3 separate regions of the Homo sapiens genome follow, and all the other regions are linked to region 2. The links come from fine-mapping of genetic effects on plasma protein levels. Region 2 holds a variant in brackets. A gene starts in each other region. All regions are shown on their forward strands. Region 1 holds the start of SERPINI2 (serpin family I member 2). Region 2 overlaps CTRB2 (chymotrypsinogen B2). Region 3 holds the start of REG1B (regenerating family member 1 beta).

Evidence for each region. PIP is the posterior inclusion probability: the model's chance that the variant is causal. Protein levels are from antibody-based Olink assays in UK Biobank. Linkage for the fine-mapping came from a reference panel and not from the study's own genotypes, which makes the PIPs less certain.
Region 1: SERPINI2 starts here. The variant in region 2 is fine-mapped to the plasma level of the SERPINI2 protein (UK Biobank, PIP above 0.99).
Region 3: REG1B starts here. The variant in region 2 is fine-mapped to the plasma level of the REG1B protein (UK Biobank, PIP above 0.99).

What each region holds. Positions count from the first base shown.
Region 1 is chr3:167,472,305-167,480,458 of GRCh38, forward strand. It overlaps SERPINI2 (serpin family I member 2), which reads right to left and starts at 1,738. Exons shown (of 9, transcript NM_006217.6): 1 at 1,699-1,738. It overlaps WDR49 (WD repeat domain 49), which reads right to left. Exons shown (of 19, transcript NM_001366157.1): 19 at 6,380-6,692. The coding sequence ends at 6,574. It overlaps LOC105374197 (a long non-coding RNA gene), which reads left to right. Exons shown (of 3, transcript XR_924683.3): 3 at 2,068-2,156.
Region 2 is chr16:75,197,505-75,205,689 of GRCh38, forward strand. It overlaps CTRB2 (chymotrypsinogen B2), which reads right to left. Exons shown (of 7, transcript NM_001025200.4): 5 at 7,829-8,009; 6 at 7,269-7,402; 7 at 6,599-6,818. The coding sequence ends at 6,657. Among named protein-coding and RNA genes, the nearest start is that of CTRB2, 5.6 kb to the right of the region's middle. RefSeq lists enhancers at 308-808, 1,847-2,141, 3,993-4,072. The variant C/A (reference allele first, on the strand shown) is at 3,470.
Region 3 is chr2:79,083,319-79,091,503 of GRCh38, forward strand. REG1B (regenerating family member 1 beta) reads right to left here and starts at 4,675. Exons shown (of 6, transcript NM_006507.4): 1 at 4,641-4,675; 2 at 4,231-4,340; 3 at 3,494-3,612; 4 at 3,049-3,186; 5 at 2,174-2,285; 6 at 1,705-1,965. The coding sequence starts at 4,294. The coding sequence ends at 1,898.

The sequences.
Region 1 (8,154 bases), not on the chromosome of region 2:
TATTAGAAAATTAATGTATTCTAAAGCAACTGAGTAATCTGGCTAACTTTTTACAATTTTCCTCACGCTTTATTTCTTAGGACAAAATAACCCAAAGCCCTCTTCCTGCTTTTCCAAAAGAAGACAAATACAATGCAGAAAACCTGCAAAGTTTGAAACAAAATGGCAATCAAATATAAATGATACAATAAAGTACTATGCTCACTACCTGGGTGATGAGATCATTTATACCCCAAACCTTAGTGTCAGGCCATATACCCATGTAGCAAACCTGCACATGTACATTAATCTGTAATAAAACTTGAAATTATAAAAGAAAAAATATAAATAAAATGAAATATAATATCAAAGAATTGACAGAAATACTAACAAATGTAAGAGTAGCAGCAATTAAAAACCATAAACAATTCACAAGACTAATAATACCCTATTAAAGTGCTCTCCACTAAAATTGCAGGAAATTCAACCATTTGATTATATCTCAAGCAGAATTAGTTTTGCAATATTACCACATATTTGGTAGAATGTTGACTCCAAGGCCTCATAAATTTTAGTAACAATAATTTTACCTTATAAATAATACATGTTAGTAATCCTTAAAAACTTATCCATCAGTAAGTTACTAGGAAGTAACCCTTAATTAGGGGTAAAGATGAAAGCCTTTAGAATAGTCTGTTGTCAGCCTTAAGTAGAGACTTACATTTCTAGAGTGTTTTGCAGATCATTAAGGGTACCATAAATGGTAGGAGTCCCTAAGAACAACTATATTTATATATAAAGATTACTAATAGTCAAATATTGTTCCAAATTAAACTATGGAGTCATTATTTATCCTTCAATGTATTTTGTTAAACTGTATTTGTTTAGATATATATTTGCAAAAGACAAAAGCCTCAAAAAACAATCCAAAGCAATTGTTAGAAAATGTGTTGGTAAACTTTAGATATAGACCTATATGCTATTAATATCAAGCAAATGTTTCATTAGGGATTAATTTAGCATATGAGCTTATAAATGAGAGTGCAACAATAGTTAAAAACCAGTGAGTAAGAGAAGTTTTACATGCAAAATAAATGTCTGTGTATCATTATCTTCTAATATATTCAATTTCTCAGAAGACTTCTGACCAAAATATGTGTTTGTAGATACGTAGTCAAAATGTTATTAGTACCTTTAAGTTATCAACTGGAAATACATTAGATATAGCTTTATGTATTTGGTTTATATTGGAATAATGAACAGTATTATTAAAAATGTAATTTTTTTCTTTGTGGTAGAATCTCAGTATTAGAGTTTCCTTCTCATTATTATTAATAATCTTAATAATTAAATTTATATTATTTGAGCATCCACATCCATTTTTTCTAGAAAATTTCTAAGCACTTAATAAATTATAACCTCAGACAAATATTGGTTTTAAAAACTCACTTACCTCATCAGGTTTTGGATCATATCTTATCAGAAAGCACAAAGTAATGCTGAACTAAACAACCTGATGAATAGTCCTATAAGAACTGGATCTTCTGATTTGTGGTGAAATCATTTAAGGAGAATAAAAGCGATATGTTAATTAAATAAATTCAAATGATTTTTACACCAAAGTAAATTGAAATGCCATTCCATACTCTACTAAACATTCATAGGCAATGTTATTGCATACATACTTATTCAAAAGCTATTTATTTCTAAGGTACTTACCCCAAACTGACTTCTGATTATTCACTGGAATGTTACAACTAAAATACGCTTGCTGGAAAACTCTTGTACATAAACACCTGAGCGATCAAGGCCAACTCCATTTATCTTGACCATTGCTTGATTAATTCCTCTAGAACAAAAGCAGGTGTTCACTACATTTGTATTAAGAACTAACACAATCGGGTTAATGATCAACTGATGAAATGTGCAAGAATTGAGAAAAAAACAATTATAGAATTTTTTAAAAGTATTAAATTTATATTATTATTTTATCCATTATTTTGCTTCTTTTAAAAGTTGCACAGAATTTGAAAGGATGCGCTACTGGTTGTAAATTTGCTAGTAATTAGTTCTTTTTGTTTCTCACAGGACTCCTACATCAGATTACCAATGCACTTTGTCATAAATATTTCAGAATGCCTATGAGAAAAAGAATAAAGCTAAATCAAGTCCAGAATACAGAGACAAATCACTGCTGCATTGACAGAGTTCTCAACATTCATCAAATTATACAATAGTCAGAGGAGTTTCCTGTGGATATAAGGTCCATTTGAATCCTTAAGAAAAAGAGTGGATATTGAAGAAATATGTTCTTTATTCTGAGCAGAAAGGCCAGCAAAAAAGATAATGGATTTGCCAAAATATATCAGGACAATACTATTAGCCATAGGTAATTGGATGATAAAAATTGCTGTTACCTTTATGTGCTTTTGAAACTCTACATGATTTTCTTTGCAAAAAGGTCATTAATAAAAAATTGCATAATTTAATGGGTTTCATCTCATTTTTGTAGTTCAAATCAATCACCTCAATGGCAATCAGATATTAAGCACATTGTATTATTTATCTATAGCCTTTGAGAAGAGAAAAAAAATTTAGTTCACTTTTAATTAAATATCTGTTGATCCCCAAATTTAATACTATTTCTGATAAACTCATGTAAAAGAAATAAAGTGAATATAGATAGCTTTAAATGGAATTCATTTTTAAAAACTTGTCAGAGGACCCTGTTAACATCTTTCCATGTCCTAACATGGCTATAACTTAAAAATAGGCCTGAGAATAGATCATTATAGGCCATAATCTACTAATTAACTAAAATTTTTTGATTTCCCATATAGGCATCTCCAAATGTTTTCTAGATCTTGAGTTTTATTCTAATATTACCTACTCTATCATAAGCACACTCTAGTGTAGCTTTAACTTAACACAGAGATAATTTTCCAAAAAGAGTTGTGCAATACAAGAATACTATCATTCTACTTGCTTCACACTGCAATACATAAATATTAAGTCTGAATGTCAAGACTATCATTCAATCAATGCTTTTCTACCCATTTACTGACACCAGCAAACATATATCACCAGTACCCTTGGCTACCACATCATTATGTCTGTACACTGCTCAGATCACAATGTGATTTATCCAGAAATAGTCCATTACTTTTCCTACCAATGGCAGAGACCGTCACTCTGTCCTACTAAGACCATTTAATGAAATTGTTCTGTAAGGACCTTATATTAGAGCAGTTCAGGCAGAATGTTCATTTTCCTGTCTCTTGAGGAGTAAAAAGCAATAGCCATAAATTTATTCTCCCTGGTTTAACCTCTTTTAATAGACAATGACGACAATACAATTGTCCATAAAATATTACCACAAATTTTTAAAATATTTTCCCAAACCGCTTTTTTCTACAATTCTATTTTGCTCCTAGAAAATCGGGGTGGGGGGAGAATTATTCATTAATGAGAGCCAACGTGTCTTGGTAGAAGGTTGATCGCCATTACTGTCCGACTGTAAAGTATAAGCCTAGGAATATATATAAAAACCACAGCAAAGGGTTACAGTTATCATCTCATCAATTTTCTTATCCTTTTATAGTTTTTTCAAGTAAAAGTGCACTTAATTCCAAACTTTAAAAATGTATAAGCAAATGCCCTCATCAGTAAAGAACTTAAAAGTTAATTCTTCCATTTAAGCATGGACTCATTTCAGGCAATTTTTTTTGGTAAGATTGTTCCTAAATTTTGAGTGATAATAGGAAAATGTTCTGACAAAAGAAAATGTTAAATTATATTTAGTGTAAATATAAGTAATACAAACAAGGTAGCCTATTGAAAATTATGACATATCCTATTTTAATGTGACCAATTCCTTTTACCACAGAAAAATGGATCATAAGTAATTGAATCTGAATGTTAATTTCAGAAACAGTTTATAATGCCTTCAGTTCTGTTAAGAGTTGACAGGTGAGATCCTGCTACCTGCCTAGAAAATTAGATGCTGTGAGTTACAAAAGAAGAGTAAGACACAGAAAAAAAGACATTGTCTTTTTTCTTCTTTTTGTGTTTTTTCTCCAAATTATTAGAAACAGTTACCTTGAAAGTCTCATACCTTTAAAAGTTCTCTTCTCATTGAATATATTTATGAGACAGCTCTTCTTAATTCCTTTTACAGAAGAAGCCCTGATGTTAATTAAGGATGGAATTAGAGTTACAGCATAATACCATGCACATGTAGTAGGCTATAGAGAGAAGGTCTGTCTGTATGAACCAGACTATCTCAGGCTATCACATCAAACAAAGTTATCTTCAAGGGTAAACAGTAAAGTATATCTAGCAAAAGAATTCCCAAATTAGACTGGAAAAAATATGCCAGATTATGAATTTCCAACTTATGCCAGTGGGCTCATTTAGTATTGGCTTAATAAACCACTACATTTTATATAGCTTCACTTCAGAACGCTGAGGGTAGAAAAGGTGCATTCTATTTATATGTGAATACCCGGAACCTAAAATAATCTCTTATACATGCCTTCAATACTTACATGAGGGATGGACGGATCAGTGGGGAAAAGAGCCTTTGCAAATTATTTGGTACCCGCATTCTACTTTTATAACATCTTAACATTCCATTAAATTTCTGGGCATGTGGCTCAGATTTCACTCCATTGTACTATCACCAACCTATGATTCATAAATCATGTGCTCTGAGTTTGAAATGATGGATTACCCAGTCAAACCTCCTACCCAGTGCAAGAAGTCTTTGCAATATCCCCGTGAGACAGTTACCCAGTGTCTGCTTGAACATCTCAAATAATCTTTTTGTTCAAAAGCAACTTTTTATATTTTAAAAAAATTTACCTTGAAATACTTTCAAATTTACATAAAAGTTGCAGATATAGTTCAAAGAACTGCTATCTCCACCTCCTCCTCTTTCCCCAATTGTTAGCATCTACCGCATGTGTGTGTTTCATCTATGTATCTATCCTCCCAATAAGCAAACAGATGTAAATATAGATATGTATATGTGTTACCTGTGTGTGCATATATATACATTTTATATATACATATAATTAGTATTTTCTGAATCATTTTATAGCAAGCTAAAAACATAATTTCTATCATACTTAAACATTCTATTATTATATTTTTCTAAAACAAGGACACTTCTTGTACATCATCACACCACCCAACAGACAAACACACACGCACACACACACAGAGACAAATATACTTTTCTCCTACAATCTTTCCTGCATGTAATTTTCATTCCATGAGGAGGAAAGGCGATATGAATAGAAGTCATAATGCCTAACTCAGAATACACTTAAATGTAGTTAGAATAGGCAGCTGTCTTCTGAAAGTCCTTCCATCACCGCCTTCTCCACCAAACCAAAATATTTGCTCCACTGGTGCTGGAAAGTCTAGTGTTAGAATTCATTCCATTGGCTTTATACTAATAAGAAGCAAGTGTACAGAATGATGAATGGCAAATACCATGGTTTGGGAGTAAAACAGACCTGGGTTCCAATCTCAACTCTGCCATTGATAATTGAGCACTCTCCTAATAGATTCGCATCTCATATTTTAGCTCTAAGCTAATATATTCATATGATTATTGTGTGGTTTAAACACAATGGACATTTGCAGTTGCTATACCAAGTGGTCCCCTACCTATTGCAAATTATTTTCCTTTACTACATGTGTTATTGAAAAATTCTTCTTAAACTTTAGCTGGTTTTGAAAGCACTCTTTAAAATATAAATATACAGTAAGTCATTATAGTTATGTAAATGAATTTACCAATTCTTTCTATAGGACACAATAAATAAAGCAGAATAATAATATTGCCTGGAAGATGATTATATTTGTAAATAAAAATGGGTCAACAAACAGAGGCAGTAAGTTAAAGAACCAAATATTTCCCACTTGACTTTCCACATAGAGTGGGTCCTTTATATAGCCCCAGGCCCTTTGATTTTTTTTCAAGACTATTACATCTTCAATGTGCTATGGCATTCAATTTTAAAGTACAGTATAACAAACTATTGAAGTAGATCATATGCAGTAATTTTCCAATAAGTTTATAGAATGAATAAAAGCCAATAAGAATTAACAGGAAGTGGTGCTATTGACAAAGTCTAATCACCATTATGAGAATCATTTAAAAACTACTAGAAAGTGTAAAAAAGTGGAAACAGTTTTCTTATTCACATTTGTAGATATTTACTCCGTCAGTACTTTTCATATATTTCAATGCAGGTTTTACAATGAAAACTGATCAAAAGTGTTTGTCTATAGGAACAACCAGAAGGGCAACTGGTTAGAACTTTGTTCTGGAATCATAAAGTTTTTATATAAAAATCCTTGAGAATAAATACCAAGATGTTGCTCCCACTTTAGTTCAATATTTATTTTATTAAGAATACAGAGAAATTGACAGATGATAGATAAAAGCAGTACTAAATTATCCCATGAAGAGAAAACTTCCTGAAGTTTAAATATAAAATAAAATAAAAGGCAGAATTCTTGATGCTTTTTCTGCATTTTATATCTGTACCTTATGTAACAGTGAAGGTTTTTCTGTTGTAATTACTTCTTATTTTTCTTCACTTCACAACTTTTTTCTTGGCATAATTGCTTGGCTTTTCGTTCATGATGCAGAATTTCCTTGGGAAACAGGTTTTTCTCATCAAATACAGCTTTCAAAGCTACAAAATGATGAGGAAAATCACAAGTGAATTATATTTGTTAAGAGACCTATTTAAATGAAATAGTGGGGAGAAAATTCTCAAATTTTGCTTTTTCTAAAAATCTTTGTTTCTAAAACACAGAGTGTATTTGGAAAAATTTTCTCTAAGCTTCTGCTATTCTGTTTACTGCAATTTACATCTAAAAGTTAAATTTTGGTAGAGTTTGTTCTTTTAATGCATATATCTTAATAGAAATCCACCATTCTAAGGGTAGAGGATTATAGAAGTTCCTGTTTTCCATTTTTGTTTTTTAATCTACTTAACAGCTATCAAGACATAAAGAGCCAAGAAAAAATTATTCTGTATTGAAATAAGGCAATTAAAATAGTCAAAACACAGTTTGACTGTCTGCATGAATAAACAAGCGCATCTATAATCACGTCCATAGGGGTTTGCAGTTTTAGGAAAAAAAAGAACCAAATTATTTCCATGAGTGGTTATATTGCGCATCAGTGAGAAGTAGGAGGAAATTGTGCCATACATTCTAGAAAATAATTTTGGCATTTTGCATAATTTTATTATTTAAACAAATGCTTATTGAATGTCTATTATACACAATGTTCTGTGTTGAGGCATAAATGAGGCACAAATATGACTAAGTCACAACCTTTCTTCCAATTGGTGGAAACTAGAAGCAGTACCCAAATAACCAAAACATCATATACAATAAGATATCATTCCAAGAGAATATAAGCAATGCAAACTGTGTATAAACATGTAAAAGATATTATAACAATATATAAAGATTTTTTAAAAAGCTTTAAGAATTAGGTACTTATTTGAGGTAGGTCTTGAATTCCAGATAGGACTTTAATTGAGAATAAGAAACATGGAGGTGGGGAAGAATTGGCAAGGGTTGGATAGGAAGTGTCAACTGGAGGAAACAAGGTGAATAAAGCATGGAAAAAAAGGCCGGGCACGGTGGCTCACGCCTATAATCCCAGCAATTTGGGAGGCCGAGGCAGGTGAATTGCCTGAGGTCAGGAGTTCGAGACTAGCCTGGCCAATTTAGTGAAACCCCGTCTCTACCAAAAATACAAAAAAATAAGCCAGGCATGGTGGCAGGCGCCTGTAATCTCAGCTACTCGGGAGGCCAGCTACTCGGGAGGCTGAGGTAGGAGAATTGCTTGAACCCAGGAGGCAGAGTTTGCAGTGAGCCGAGATCAAGCCATCGCACTCCAGCCCAAGCAACAGAGAGAGACTCTGTCTAAAAAAAAAAAAAAAAAAAAAAAAGGAAAAATAATAACTACTATTAGAATAACTCTGAATAATTCAGTACAATTTAAAAGAAGCATAAAATATGTGAAAGAAAGTAAAGTGGAATAAATTTGGAGCTGGACCTAGGAACACTTTAAACACCAACCAAAGCATATGAAATTAAAAAGTAAACATTGAATGACTTTACAGTATAGTGGCATCT
Region 2 (8,185 bases):
GAGATCCTTCTGCCTCAGCCTCCCAAGTAGCAGGGACTACACCACCACACCTGGCTAATTTTTATTTTTTATGGGGACGTGGGTCTTGCTATGTTGCCCAAGCTGGTCTTGAACTCTTAGGCTCCAGCAATTCTCTTACCTCAGCCTCCCAAAGTGCTGGGATTGCAGGCGCGAGCCGCTGCTCCTGGCCCTACGTTCTATAGGTATTCTCTCCCCTCATACCTCAAACTCCTGACACAGGGCACCCACTAGTGGATAGTGTTCCCCAGAATACCATTGCATTTCATCAGCAGTGGAAGCTTTCACAACCTCATTGCTACCGTGTGCCCGACCTATCTACGCTTCCTCTACCAACCATGAAGAGGTCCTCACTGCCAGCCTGGTAGTCAGCAGTCCAGCTCCAGAATCCCACCTCAGCATCCGCATTTTGCAGCTCACTCCCGGCACACACGATCATAGCTGGAGCTCCCCACAGGAAGTAGACTCTGAGATAAAGATGACCACACAGAAGTTTACTGGTACCCCAGGAGCAATACCTTTGGAACCGAAGACTCGTAGGGGTAGGGAAAGAGCAATGTTGGGCAGAGGAAGATAGAGCCTCAACATCGTCCCAAGTTTGGGTGAAAAGACTGGACCTTTAAAAAACCCTACTGACCAATCACTGGATGCAGCTGCCCAGAAAGGAGGCAGGACCCGAGGTCAAGATGATGCTCTTCAGCTGAGGAAACTCCCAAAGAGGACGGCAGCTGCGGACTGTCTGCTGTCCACAGCAGCGCGTGGGGAGGTCGGCCTGCAGTCCTGGAGGGAATCTGGGTGGCTAATCACGCAACCACTAGATTAGGTACAGATGCAGGCTGGTCCGAGACAGGATTCTCTTGCGACTGCTCCAGACGTTTCTGTTAGTAGAAAGCCAGATCACCCGATGGGCGGGGAGAGGCGCGTGCACTGTTTAACGTGGTCTAACTCAGACCAAGGGTGGGGGAACCCCCGCCCGAGGAGGAATCTGTTTTTAAGCTGAGATTAAATCAAGTGCGACCCCTGATTAAACTCAGCCTTTTGCTTAACTGTACTTGTCAATATAACACATAATTGGAAGCTTTTAAGCATATTTGGGACAATTTGGGTGTGAGTCTACCTTTTCAACTGTAAGTTTTACAAGATGTAAATGCAGATCGAGTATTTCTCATGAAAATGTAGCATCCAGGTGGAGATGTGATGGAAGTGCAAATTACACACTAGGTTTGAAAGAGTGTAAGAGTGTAAAATATATCATTAATAATTTTAAAATACTGATTACATGTTGAAATATGTAGATATATTGGGTTAAATAAAATATATTATTAAAATTCTTTTTTCTTTTTTTTTTTTTTTTGAGACGGAGTCTTGCTCTGTCGCCCAGGCTGGAGTGCAGTGGCGAGATCTCAGCTCACTGTAAGCTCCGCCTCCCGGGTTCATGCTATTCTCCTGCCTCCGCCTCCTGAGTAGCTGGGACTACAGGTGCCCGCCACCACACCCGGCTAATTGTTTTGTATTTTTAGTAGAGACGGGGTTTCATCGTGGTTTCATCGTGTTAGCCAGGATGGTCTCATCTCCTGACCTCGTGATCCGCCTGTCTCGGCCCCCTAAAGTGCTGGGATTACAGGCGTGAGCCACCGCGCCAGTCCCTCTTTTTTTTTTTTTTTTTTTTAAGAGACAGGGTCTCACCACCACACCCAGCTAATTTTTGCATTTTTTTTTTGTAGAGAAGAGGGTCTCACTATGTTGCCCAGACTGGTCTCGAACTCCTGGGCTCAAGCGATCCGCCCGCCTCAGCCTCCCAAAGGTGCTGGGATTACAGGCGTGAGCCACCGTGCCCGGCCTCTTTTTACTTTTTCAGTAGGGCTACCAGAAAATTTAAAATCATCCATTTGGCTCGCCTTGTATTTCTTTTGTATTTCTTTGAAACAACGCTGGGTTAGGAACAGTAAGGCATAGCTATATGCAGTTTTCATATTGGCCACCAGGTGGCAGCCTTATACCGGGTGGTTTTCAGACTCTTGGGAGGCCGGTGGGTGGAGCGGGGGACAGACGCAGATTTCACCAGCAAGTGAAAAAGTCCCTTAGCCAGGTTTGTGCTTGCTATTCCATTTTTATATTACTTACGCCTCACATTTATTTGTATGTAGATGGTTGTTGACATAATAAAATACATGTAATTTCCTCTGTGTTTAAGAGCAGTTCTCCCTCACTGAGCTGGGAGTTTCCTTAAGAAACCTGGCTCTTAATTATATAGAGAGAGACTGGGCGCGGTGGCTCTAATTATATATAGAGACACCCAGCGCGGTGGCTCACACCTGTAATCCCAGCACTTTGGGAGGCCGAGGTGGGTGGATCGCCTGAGGTCAGGAGTTCGAGACCAGCTTGACCAACATGGTGAAATACATGTCTCCACTAAAAATACAAAAATTAGCTGGGCATGGTGGCATGCACCTGTAATCCCAGCAACTCAGGAGGCTGAGGCAGGAGAATTGCTTGAACCTGGGAGGAAGAGGTTGCAGTGAGCTGAGATTGCACCACTGCACTCCAGCCTGGGCAACAGAGTAAGACTCCATCTCAAAAAAAGAAAAAAAAATACACACACACACACACAGAGAAAGACAGGGTGACAGGGTCTTGCTCTGTCACCCATGCTGCAGTGCAGTGGTGTGATCATAGCTCACTGCAGCCTCGAACTCCTGGGCTCAAGTGATCCTCATGCCCCAGCCTCCTGAGCAGCACATTACAGGTGCCACCCGCTGCACCCAGCTACTTTTTCTTTTTTTTAAAGGAGTCTCACTATGTTGCCCAGGCTAGTCTCAAACTCCTGGCCTCAAACAATCCACCCGCCTCTGCTTTTTTTTTTTTTTTTGAGACAGTCTCACTCTGTTGCCCAGGCAAGAGTGCAGTGGCACCATCTTGGCTCATTGCAACCTCTTGCCTCCTGGGTTCAAGCAATTCTTGTGCCTCTGCCTCCTGCGTAGCTGGGATTACAGGCATGTGCCACCACGCCTGGCTAATTTTTGTATTTTTGGTAGAGATGGGGGTTTCACCATGTTGGCCAGGCTGGACTCGAACTCCTGACCTCAGATGATCCGCCTGCCTCTGCCTCCCAAAGTGCTGGGATTACAGGTGTGAGCCCCTGCGCCCGGCCGGCTTGATACTATTTTTAATAGTCGACTTTGGATCCCACTCCTGTGCCCAAGCTCTCTCTCATTTTGCTTTTCCCCTCTTCACACATCCATTCTCCAAGTTAATTTCTCTTCATGTCCTTATAATTAAATTCCATCTATAACCTTAATTCCAACCTATTAGACGCATCATCAGAACGGCTGACAGTGCACGGGCAGAGAAAGGTATTAGGAAAGCCAGTGAAGTAGAAAATGCAGGAGGGAGCCCATTCCATTCCTGCCAAGATGCCGGGTTAGTGTGGAATGTTGGCTGCCCCCCAGGA[C/A]CAGCCATGATAGATTTTTTTTAGATGGAGTCTCACTCTGTCACCAGGCTGGAGTGCAGTGGCAAGATCTCGCCTCACTGCAACCTCTGCCTCCTGGGTTCAAGCGATTCTCCTGCCTCAGCCTCCTGAGTAGCTGGGACTACAGACACCCACTACCACACCTGGCTAATTTTTGTATTTTAATAGCAATGGGGTTTCACCATGTTGGCCAGGATGGTCTCAATTTCCTGACCTCATGATCTGCCCTCCTCGGCCCCCAAAAGTGCTAGGATTACAGGCGTAAGCCACCATTCCCAGCCCATGATGGATCTTTAGAGGGAAACATCAAGAGACAGGAAGACCTGGGAGAAGAAGCAAAGATCGGAACCTGTGGTTACGTGGGGAGGCTAGAGCTGTGGCCCAAGGCAGAAGGCTGTGAACTCGGCTGTGCAAGGAAAAAACAGGAAGTGAGCACCAGGGTTCTGCTCTGCTTCCGACCCAGCTCCAGGGCTTTGGGGCAATGGGTGCCTGCCCCTGGCCTGCAGGTGCCCTCAGGATAAAGTGGGTCATGCCGAGGCACTGTACAGGGGAGGAAATGAAAAAGACTTAGAACTATAAAGTGTGTATCAAATTGCAATAAAAAAGGCCAGGTGTGGTGGCTCACACCTGTAATCTCAGCACTTTAGGAAGCCGAGGTAGGTGGATCAGTTGAGGTCAGGAGTTTGAGACCAGCCTGGCCAACATGGTGAAACCCTGTTCTTACTAAAAATACAAAAATTAGCCAGGCATGGTGGTGGACACCTGTAATCCCAGCTATTTGGGAGGCTGAGGAGGGAGAATCACTTGAACTCAGGAGAGGTTGCAGTGAGCAGAAATCATGCCACTGCATTCTAGTCTGAGCATAAGAGCAAGACTCCATCTCAAAAAAAAAAAAAAAAAAAATACAATGAAAGCAGTGTTTGGAGGAAAGCTTGCCTCCTGAAATACTTTTATGAGAAAAGAACACACTGAAAATTACTGAGCTGAGTATCTAAATTTGTGATGTTAAAAAATCACAAATGGATACATACAGATTAGGAAGCCAGCATTACCCTGATACAAAAGCCAGATAAAAACATCAGAAGAAAATTACCAACCAGTATCTCTCATGAATATAGATGCAAAAACCTTCAATAAAGTACTAGCAAACTGAACCCGACAGCATATTAAAAGGATTATACACCATGATGAAGTGGGAGTTATCCCAGCATGCCAAGCGCTATAGGAAATAACAAGAAAATCCATCAGCGTAATATGCATTAATTGAATGAAAGGGGAAAATCACGTGATCACTTAAATTGATGCAGAAAAGGCCTTTGACAAGATCCAACACCCTTCATGATAAAAAGCACTCAGAGGCTGGGCGCGGTGGCTCACGCCTAATCCCAGCACTTGAGGACGCCGAGGCGGGTGGATCACCTGAGGTCAGGAGTTTGAGACCAACCTGACCAACATGGTGAAACCTCCTCTCTACTAAAAATACAAAAAATAGCTGGGTGTGGGGGCTCACGCCTACAATGCCAGCTACTGAAGAGGCTAAAGCAGGAGAATCTCTTGAACCCAGGAGGTGGAGGTTGCAGTGAGCCGAGAAAGCGCCATTGCACTCCAGCCTGGGCAACAAGAGCAAAACTCCATCTCAAAAAAAAAATAATAAAATAAGTTAGCCGGGCATGGTAGCATAGGCCTGTACTCCAAGCTACCTGGGAGGCCGAGACACGAGACTCACTTGAACCTGAGAGATGGATGTTACAGTGAGCTGAGAGCGAACCTCTGCACTCCTGCCTGGGCAAGAAAGCAAGACTCTAAAAAAGACTGTCTAAGAACCCCATGCAGGCTGAGTCAAGGAAACTAAGAAACTAAGCATCTTGGTAAACCAACGAAAATCAAAGGTAAAATCTTAAAAGCATCCAAAGAAAATCCATTAAACCTTTTTAAAAAGCAACAGTAAATCACTGACTTCTCCACGAATCAACAGAAGCCAGGAGACACTGAAACACCTTCCAAGTCCAAATATCCATGTACATACCCACATGCACGTCTCAACAAAAATTATTTTTCAGAGTGACAGGCAACTTTTACAAGATCAAAATGAATAAATATCTTTTCAGACAGTGGAACAACAGGAGAATTTTCTCCAACAAAATTTTCACTGCATTAAAGGAAAGACTAAAAGTTTCCAGAGAGAGAGAGACCGCCAATCCGGACACATCCTGGGAAAGGAACCGGCCCCCTCCATGGCCTGGCCGAAGTGATGGAAGCTGAGCGTGAGGAAGCCTCAAGATCTAACTGCAGAGGCCGAGCGCGGTGGCTCATGCCTATGATCCCAGCACTTTCGGAGGCCGAGGCAGGCAGATCACCTGAGGTCAGGAATTTGAGACCAGTCTGAACAACATAGTGAAACCCCATCTCTACTGAAAATACAACAATTAGCCGGGCGTGGTAGTGAGTGCCTATAATCCCAGTTACTTGAGAGGCTGAGGCAGAAGAATGGCTTGAACCCAGGAGGCAGAGGTTGCCGTGAGCCAAGATGTCACTGCACTCCAGCCTAGGCAGCAGAACAAGACTCTGTCTCAAAAAAAAAAAAAAAAAAAAAAAAAAAAGTCTAACTGCAGGGTCACAGAAAATGCAGAGAGGGAGGCGGGGAAGAGTGTGGGAGCTGAGAGGACAGTGGCGCCAGCTCCCAGCAGTGGATGCAGAAGGTGTGAGGGGCTGGGGTCTGACGGGGGAGGGGGTGATGCTTGCATGCACATTCCTGAGCACTGGACATGGGGGACTAAAGGCAGAGAAAGGCACCTGGAGTGTGTGGGTCAGCAGTGGTCCCAGTGACAACTCCAGGGGGCTATGGATTGCAGAGCCTGGCCAAGGACTGCTGCCTTCCAGAAAGCCCCACGGGTCAAGCTAGCTTCAGCAGGTAGGGCCTAAATTCTAAACCCAGGGTGGAGCCGTGAGCAGGCAAGAGATATGAAGACCTCAGCTTCCTGAGAAGGCTGGGTTGCCAACATTAACTGCAGCCTGGAAAGGGAACGGTAGTGCTGCCCCTTTGTGGGTGACAAGGACAACTTCAAGCCCACCTCCCCTGGGCCACACAGACACAGGCAGTGCAGTCAGGGCTTCTAAACAGATGCATTTAATGGGAAATCTTAAGGCAGGGGTGGCAGGAGCTGCGGGCTCAGTTGGCGGCCAGGATCTTCTGCACCCAGGGTATGAGCTTGGCGACACGGGCGTACACAGCGGGCGTGGTGGTAGAGCAGGTGCGGCTGCCCCAGGACACAATGCCCACCAGGGTCCAGGCTCCGTCCTTCTGGCAGACCAGGGGGCCTCCAGAGTCACCCTGCAGGAAGGAGAGGAAGTATCTCTAGGCCTGAAAGGGGTGCCAGGGCCTAGGGGACCCTGACCTGGTGGAGTCTAGGGAGGGGTGCGGAGAAATGGTAAGCATGGGCATAGGGGCTGTGCCGGGGTCCTGAGATCTGGGTTCACATGGCAGCCCCCACTCTGCCATGCACTCTTGGAGGGAGCTGGGGCAGGTGGCTTCCCTCTCTAAGCCGGGGCACCATCCATCTCTCCAAACCTCCAGCTCACAGGGCTGCAAGGAAGTCCCCAGGGGCAGCCTCAGCTGCATGGCCTGGAGGAACCCTCATGGGCGGCTGTGACCCCAAGGCCTGGCCCTCACTGGGCCCCAGGAGGGTGTGGGGTTAGTAGATGAGAGCAGAGAGGGGTGGAAAGCCCAGACCTCCCCTGCACCCCGCTCGCCTGGCCAGGGCCTGGGCAGGGCCAGCCTCACCATGCAGGAGGAGACGCCACTGGCCCCGGCACAGATCATCACGTCGGTGATCCTCCTGCCCCAGGACTTCTTGCATTCGGCATTGGACAGGAGGGGCAGGGCTGCCTGCTGCAGCTTGTCAGGGGTCTTGTTGGCTGCAGGACAGGAGGAGGGTCAGGGCCCCTGGGCTCACTCAGCCAAGAGTGGAGGGAGAGACCCGGGGCCGACACGCCTGCCCTACCCTGCACCATCACCACGATGTTGGGTACGGCCCCTGGAGCCTCAGAAGCGCCTGTGGGACAAGGGGGCCTCGGCCCTGCCCGGGTGGGAGCCCCACGCTGCGACTCCAGGCAGGTCAGCCAGGGCAGGGCTCACCCGGCCGGGCGCTGCTCAGAAGCTCCCTGTGCAGGCTCCTCATGATCCGACCTGGATTTTATTTGCATTTGGGGGATTTTAAATTCAGAAGATTTTCAATAACGAACGGGCAGTTAGGAGCGTGTTGGAATTTAGAGCCAAACGGTCACGGGGGGACTCCACGGCCAGGCAGCCCAGACCCCAGAGGCAGCCCCGCGGCCCCTCACCGTTGTACTTGGTCTTGCCCCAGCCTGTGGTGGCACACAGTGTCCCCGCGGGGAAGTCGTCGTCGGCGCTGGGCAGGCACACGGCGGACACTGTCTGGGAGAAGCGGGCAGGTGTGGCCAGCTTCAGCAGGGTGATGTCATTGTTCACGGTCAGAATGCTGAACTTGGGGTTCTTGAAGACCTGGGGGTGGGGGCCAGAGTGCCGGGGTGAGGCCCTGGGAGGAGGCAGGACCTGCAGGCTTCGAGGACAGACTCCTTCCCTGGTGCCCGTTAAGGAGCAGTCCATCCCCAGGGCCGGAATGGGAATCACGAGGCCGGCCCGGCCCCACTGGGCGCCTGTCCCTGAAGCAGCCGAGG
Region 3 (8,185 bases), not on the chromosome of region 2:
GCAGACAGGAAAGGTTAAGTCTGCTGAAGCTTGGCCCACAGCTGCCCCTTCCCCCAGGTGCTCTGTCCCAGGGAGATGGGAGTTTATCTATAAGCCCCTGACTGAGGCTGCTGCCTTTCTTTCAGAGATGTCCTCCCCAGAGAGGAGGAATCCGGAGGGGCAGTCTGGTTATAGCGGCTTTGTCACACTGCAGTGGGTTCCACCTGTTTCAGGTATTTTGAGACATCTTCCTGAAGAATTAACTACTTTATTATTATAAAATACTCCTTTTCTTCTCAAGTAACATTTTTGCTTTAAAGTCAAATATGTCTGATATTAGTATCATTGCAGACAAAACCAGTCCCCCAAAAGATGGAGTCTTTCCCTATTTGGTGTCACAAAGCCAATACATGAAACAGAAAGTGAGTGTCAAGCACTGCAGGATTTATTTGATGGCCATGGAATTGAGAAGCAGGAACATGACTCACAAATTGGCTTCTCTGCTAGTGAGGGGTAAAGTGGTTAAAATATAGGGTTTCTCCAATGAAAGGACTGGGCATTAAAAACAAAGGGAGGAATATTCATGTCTTTTCTGGAAATAGGTTGTGAACTTCCTAGGAACCAGAGTGTGCTTCCTTTTTGTACCTTTATTGCTTCTTCTGGCCATTGTCATGGTGATTGTCAGCTGTCATTGTGCTGGTAGGAGTGTCATTTAGCATGGAAATGAGATTATAATGAACCAGATGTCTTTCTGAGGTCCTTTGATGGTGATCTTGATTCTAACCAGTATCAGCTGGACTAGTTATAAAGGAAACTTTTTACCACAGGCATTCTGTTTCTTAAAGATAAGCAGAGTTCAGACAGGGTAGAAATTCAGCAATCTCATATAGGCATTACACTGGGTAACAGTACAGAAACCAGTGTTCTTATGGTTTCTGTTTGCAAGATATGTCTATTTCCTTCCTTTTATTTTCAAGCTATTTGTGTCTTAATTTAACTCATGTCTCTCATACATAGCATACAGTTGAATCTTGTTTTCATTGTTGTTACTTTAATCCAGGATGACAATTTGTTTCCTTTGTTATCAAATCACATTTAACTCTATTATTGATATGATTGATGTTATGGGCTGAACTGTGTCCCTGCACAATTAATTTGTGAAAGTCCTAAGAGTAATATTTCAGAATTTAACTTTATTGAGAGTTAGGATATTTAAAGAGATGATTAAGTATGCCTGTATATTTAATTTACATAATTGATCATTCACTTATTCATTCATCCAAGGAGTAGCATTTAACAAACTTTGCAGGCTGGCCTCCAAAAATGTACCACTAATGCACTCAGGACCGCAGACCTGACAATTCTCCTTAAGTTATCATTTCAGTCATGACTTCAAATTGCATAACCAAGAACAGATGTGTTCTCCTCAGACCCCAACTATGCGAATTCTTCTGGAATATTAAATACTCCAGTCAGACTGGATCAACAATTTAATTATTTGTGTAATTCACACTAGGTTCATGCTAACATGTGTTGTGGATGAAATCTTAATCTTTTTATCTTGTCATAAACAAGGCCACCACATGTTCATAAGCCTGACATACATAAAATGTGAGTGGGGTTTTAACAAGTGGATGGGCCATGGCAAGCTCTGGAGTGTGACAATCATTCCCACCCCAACCACCCAAGCATGGGCTGTAGAAAGAGCAAATGCAGAAGACAGAACACTGGATAAAAATAAGTTTGTTTTTATTTTTCAGGGCTCTAGAGACTGAGACAGGTGAAGGTACTGAAGATCAGCGATGCAAACTCATTAGGGAGGAGATGGTCTGAACTGAGTTGGAGACATAGTCTAGTTTAATTTTTGACTTCATAGTAATTGCAGGACCAGTTCTAGACATCCATTTTTCAGCTTCCTCTAGTTTTTGAACTTGCAAACAAAGGAGAACTTCTTCTCACAAGATTCATCCTTCCATTTCTTGAATCCTATGGTACAATGAGAAGTGTCAGACATAGAGGATCAGAAGGAGTGTAGCCCCTCCTCAACCTAGGACTCAGAACAAAAAACTAGAGGAAATACTTCTTTATTTTCCAGATAAGGAGCTTACCTTTCCTCTATCCCAGTCCCCATGTTCATCCCCAGAGATAAGTGGGAAGGAAATGGCAACAGGTGGATAGATTGTCTGCCTCTCACCTGAGCATGAAGTCAGGCTTGCACAGTAGCCAGCATTAGCACTGCTCGGGGATCCAGTGTCCCAGGACTTGTAGGAGACCAGGGACCCACTACTCCAGTGCCAGCGGCGGTTCTAGATGGAGAAGGGCCAGAACAGGGGCCATGGTCACTCAAAAATCAATAGAATAACCAGGCCTGTGTGCACACTCAGAAACAGGCCAAGTTATAGCAGAAAGAATAAACATTGTTGTCACCATGAATATCATATCATTTCCTCTGCTTTTGCTCTAAGCTTCTCCTTCTCTAGAATGTCCGAATTCCTCCTCCTCTTCCAGCAAATAATAAGTGTTCAGAATTTGATACAGAGACCCATAAAAGCCCATTAAAGAGAGTGGTTTCTGATTTTTTTCCTGAATCTCAGAACTCTCATATCCAGCATAACATTGGCTGTAGAGTAGTCGTTGATATATTATTTAGTTTATAGTGTTAAACTAAATAATATACTGTACAGTTTTATACACTTGTATAAAATGTATAACAAATGCCAGCAGTAGATTCTCCTCCACTACTCATTTTCTATATAGTCTACAGAGGGACCTCTTCCAAGACAGACAATAGCAAAATAGGGAAAAAGTTGTACATAAAGATGCATTTCTAGAAGTAGACACAATGAGTGGGTGCATGAATTCCCAGAGCCCAGAAAATTCAGCCTTCAGCTCATGTCTCTAACTACCTACACTGAACTTCACAACTCATACATTATAGGATCTATAAAGAGGTTGCTTTTATTTAAACAAACAAAAAGATAAAAGTTGGTGATTGCGGTGCCAGACCTTAAACGTCCCTCTTACCTCTCAAAAATGTTTATAAGGAGATAGAGGTGGCTGCAGACTGACCTTTTTTGGGTCATGGAGGCCAATCCAGACATTGCTGTCATCAGTGCTACTCTCCTTAATCAGTGAGGCCACGAAGGCACCCTCCGCCTGGGTGAGCACAGACACCAGGTTGCCTGAATTCATGTTCTGGCAATAGAGCTGTTGGAGAAGAAAATGGAGCACTCAGTGGAGAAGGAAGGTGTGAGGGATATACTGAGACCTTCCAGAGGATGTAACAGAAAAAGGACAGCACAGAAATGTCCCTGATGATGCTGTCACTGACCACCAGCATCTCTGTGCTGGGAATGTGTCAAATGATGGGATAAAGTAGATTGGGAAGTTTGGGACCAGTGGTGGAATAGGGAAGGGATCAATCTTATCTCATTGCAGCCACAGAACACACTGCAAATTAGCAGCTGCCTCTACCTTCATAAGCCTCCCTTCCCCTGCTGCTCTCCTCACTCACATCTGCATCAACCCAGGTCTCAGGGTCTTCATTAAAGTAGTAGCAGTAGGAGCGATAGGCATTGGTGCCTTCTGGGCAGCTGATTCGGGGATTAGGCAGCTCTGTCTGGGACTCCTGGCCTGGGGAAAAAAAAAAGGAGATAATTAAGAAAGAATCGCAGGGCAAGGAAAAGGCTGGAAGGTGAATTAGGGGCTTCTTGGTGTCCTTTATAAGAACATATGGATACAGTGAATACTGGGGCGATTGCTCACTTCTGCCCTCCTGCATCCTATCTCTTTTCTCTCTAGTTTCCTCTGCTCAAGACAAGAGCTCACAATGAATAGGCTAAATAAATGAGTCCTCGTTTTCCTTTAATTCTGAGGCTGAGGCTTCTGCCTTTAAAGACCCAGGCTTCCTCCTTTCTCAAGTTTCTCTCGGTTTCCCTGCACACGTTTGCCTTAGCTCTCCATCCTAGCAATGACTACATAAAAACATCCCCCAAACTGCCATCGCATATAGATTCAATCAGATAAACTCAACCACAATGGTCACCTATAAGTGGTCCTATTAAATTCTGTCTCAAACCCATGAATGAGGTGAGGGTGTTTTTGAATGGGATAAAATCAGCCATAATGATCACTGAACAACATAAAAAAACCCTGATGTTGACTCTGCTTTTTTTCAAGTGAACCTTATACATGAGGATGGAGGGAAGAATTCAGAGTTGGGGTTGTGGGAAGTGTGGGGGAAAATCTCACCTTGGCTCAGAGACAGGAACATCAGGGAGGAGATCAGCATGAAGAACGAGTTGGTCTGAGCCATGCTTAGCGGCAGTGAATCTCTTGCTTAAGGAGCAAATCAGCAATCTCTGTAGGAGAACACAGGGAAGAGGGTTTGAAGAAGAGAGCAGAGCACCTGTTATCTTTCTAACATCCTCTCCTCTCTGAATTCCTGTGAGCCGAAAGGTCCACTGAGATAGCTACACTCCCAGATATTTCTCTTTTGGTTTGGGGATAACAGAGGCCAAATTACCCGAAATCAGCTTTGGTCTTGCTTAAGTTTCATTACTACTGGGATCTTTTATTCAGAAAATCACCCTGTATCTACCTCAAAATGAAAAGAGAAAATCCCACGTTAGACATGCTCTTCTCCTGTAATGCCCCTTTACCTGTTGGTAAGTGCCTTGTCCACTTGAGGTGGCTTGTCAGGTCAGACAGAGTAGGAGCTTTATATCAGGGTCTGAGAGAGAACTACATGATATAAACAATGGGTGGAGCAAGGAGTAAGGATCAGAAGGCCTACAGAGGGCACTGACAGTAAGAGATTCTGGCATCAGGAATAGCTTATTCCTGGCACACATTAGGAGTGGTCACAAATGACATCAACTTACCACAAACAGGTTGGCAAACTGTCCAAGTTGATGTTGAGCTTTGCTCTTCCTCTGCAGCATCCAGGTGTCCAGTTCCCATGGCCTTTAGCAGTCCTAGAAAGAGCAGAAGAGTAGATTTCTTTGTGCTAGGTAAATGTGGGATGATCCTTTCTTTGGTTTAGGCATGGGTAGGGGTAGGGGAAGAGTCAACTGAGTCCAAATGATTAAGCCCAATTAGCTGGTGGCTTTAAGTCATTTCTCCATTCCCTTTCAGGTTCAGGAACCTCTCAAGACCTACTTCAGAAGGCAAGGTGTATTAGTCCTTTTCATACTGCTATAAAGATAATACCAGAGACTGGGTAACTTAAAAAGGAAAGAGGTTTAATTGACTCATAGTTTAATTGACTCACAGACTTTCCTGAGGATGGGGAGGCCTCAGGAAACTTACAATCATGGAGACGAAGGGGAAGCAAAGCATGTCTTACATGGTGGCAGGTGAGCAAGAGAGAGTGGAGAGGGAAGAGCCCTTTATAAAACCATCAGATCTTGTGAGAATGCACTCACTATCAAGAGAACAGCATGGGGGAAACTACTCCCGTGATCCAATCACCTCCCACTAGGTTCCTCAATCCACACATGGGGATTATGAGGATTACAATTTGAGATGAGATTTGGGTGGGGACACAGAGCCACACCACATCACAAGGTTTAGTAGTTACGTAAATTTAAGCCAGCGTTTCCAGCAAGGTTTCAGCATAAGTAGCTAGCATGATACAGATGTTCTCAAAGTCCAAGCAGGTGGGAACTGCAGGGAGCTGATGCCTAAGTAAGCTCAAAGTAATGGAATATGAAGTTGTTGGTTTGAAGTCAATTGTCTGTTGTTGTGAAGTTACAGATAGTGATGTGAAATTAAAAGCTTACTGAAATTCCCATTAAATACCCATTCAGAATCAGGGAACAAGAGCAAATCTGGAATTTAAAATTCAGTTGAAAAACTAACCAAAATGTTCACAGAAATAAGGATGGCTATATCAATTGGGATAAATGACAAAATAATATATTTTGAAATACTAACAGGAGTTAAATTAAATAAACTAAATATATTTATATAAACATGAGCTCATTTCAAAAGCATATATAAACAAAATGAATTTTAAAAGTTGCAAAAATTTACAAACTAATAATATTTATATGTGCTTTAAAAAAGCTAATTATTTATATTTTTTTATCTATTCACATGTAGTTTAAAGTAAAATAAATCCGTAATAAAACACTATACAAAAAATTTTCATACTCATTAGAAATGCAAAATGTTTGTTTCTCAGTTCTGCAAGGAAAAGTCAGCATTCAGACAAAAAGTTCTCTCAGCGAGGCAATTTTTAATTTCTGCAGAAAGGATGCCCCTCACAGATGGAACAATGGCAAGGGCATACACAGAATGAAGAGACACCAGAATATTTATTCCTTACGCATGAGGTCCCTATTGCTGTGTCCTGTCTCCATTGGCTGGAGCCAGACCTCACAATCTAAATTAAAACCTGATTGGCTAATAATTTAAAACTTTTTAAAATAGGTACAAAAATAATAATATTTCCAAATAAGGAAGGGGCACAGGCTGTGAACTAGGACATACCTATGAGCACGTCCAACACAAATATCTTGGTTAAGGTACAAGGACATGGAATGTACTACGTGCCTGTGACTGTTCAACAGCTATATAAGATAGGGCTTAACAAAGAGTTATTAGCGTAAAGCGAGGGGGCTTGAAGGAAGTTCGTCTTTAAAATAAACTATTATTTCTAACACTTATGATTTATTCTTTAACAAGAAGGGAAACTTTGAACAGGGATCTTTTTACCGTTTACATTACTGTTTTCCTGGAGAATATATAATTTTGTCCCTTTATAATAATCATTTTAAACATAGATGACAGAGGTTAATACTGTTTAGTCTAACAGGTTCAAAAGTGTTTGTCAAACTACTCTAATTTATTTCAGCATTTTCTAAAAATAATTTTCTTTAAAGCTTACAACCAGAGAAAGATTTGAGTTTTTTTTTCTGTAAGAATTTCAATCATATTATTCAGAGTTAGAAAGGGATGAAGAAAAGAGAAATCTAGTATGCTTGTTACCATAAGTTTATCTTGCCAAAATCAAACGAGCAATTATTAGTAGTAGTAGTAGTATTATCATTATTTTTGAGACAGGGTCTCTCTTTGTCACCTAGGCTAGAGTGCAATGGCTCAAACAAGGCTCACATCAGTCTTGAGCCCCTGGGCTCAACTGTTCTCCCGCCTCAGCCTCCTGAGTAGCTGGGAGTATAGGCGCACACCTCCACGCCAGGCTAATTTTTGTATTTTCAGTAGAGACAGTGTTTTACTATGTTGCCCAAGCTGGTCTCAAACTCCTGGGCTCAAGCCATCTGCCTGCCTCAGCCTCCCAAAGTGCTGGTATTATGGGCAGGAGCCACTCTGTTGGGCCAATTTTTAAAAATTAATACAAAAAAATTATTTGTGGTAATTTTTTAAATGAGAGTTTTTCTTTACATCAAGAAGACTTCAACTAGACAATGACTTTTCAGGTACAAAAGATCTAATACTTTCAAATATATAATAAAACACATTGTGGCTAGCACGATATGAAAGCATTTTAAAACAAATAACAGTTGACGCAACTCTCATAAAATGTTTATTGCCCCAATAGCTGTATGCCCGTTTAGATAACTAACCGTTATTGCTCACATAGGTTACTGACCAAATTCCACAGGCCAGGTAGTAAAATTGAGGACATTTACTGGCAGCCACTTTGGTTCCAAAATGATGCCTTTGTCAAGGAAGCCATATTTCCCAATCCTTTAAGATTTATCTCCTTGTCCTCAGGATTCTGAAGGTCCTGTCCCCTGAACTAGTTTTACAAAGTTCTAAGAAGCTGATTTTAGGCCTTTCCTATCTATTTCTTCTGTTAGTCTTCACATAGGTGGAAAGGGGTAAACTGGATAACTAGTGTTAGTATATCCCCAAATGGGGGCAATTTCTTGATACGCCTCAATAAAGCTTAGAGAGTTTCAAGACTATGGCTTATTTTTAGCGCTATTGGCCATCTTCTATCTGCTGTTCCCTGTTTTCCACCTTTTAACAGATTTTAGACTTATTATGGAGACAGAATCTCTCTTTTGTTTAAAACTTTTGGCAGGCATGTGAATAACAGCCTGTCTGCAAACTTCAGACTGGAAAGGAAAGGAGCTGAAGGAGTACCATATGCCCCAAGAATTTTCCATGGTCCGCTGTATTGTGCAGATGTAAAGAAACTTCCTTATAAATTAGCCTCTTCTGCTTCACAGGAAAG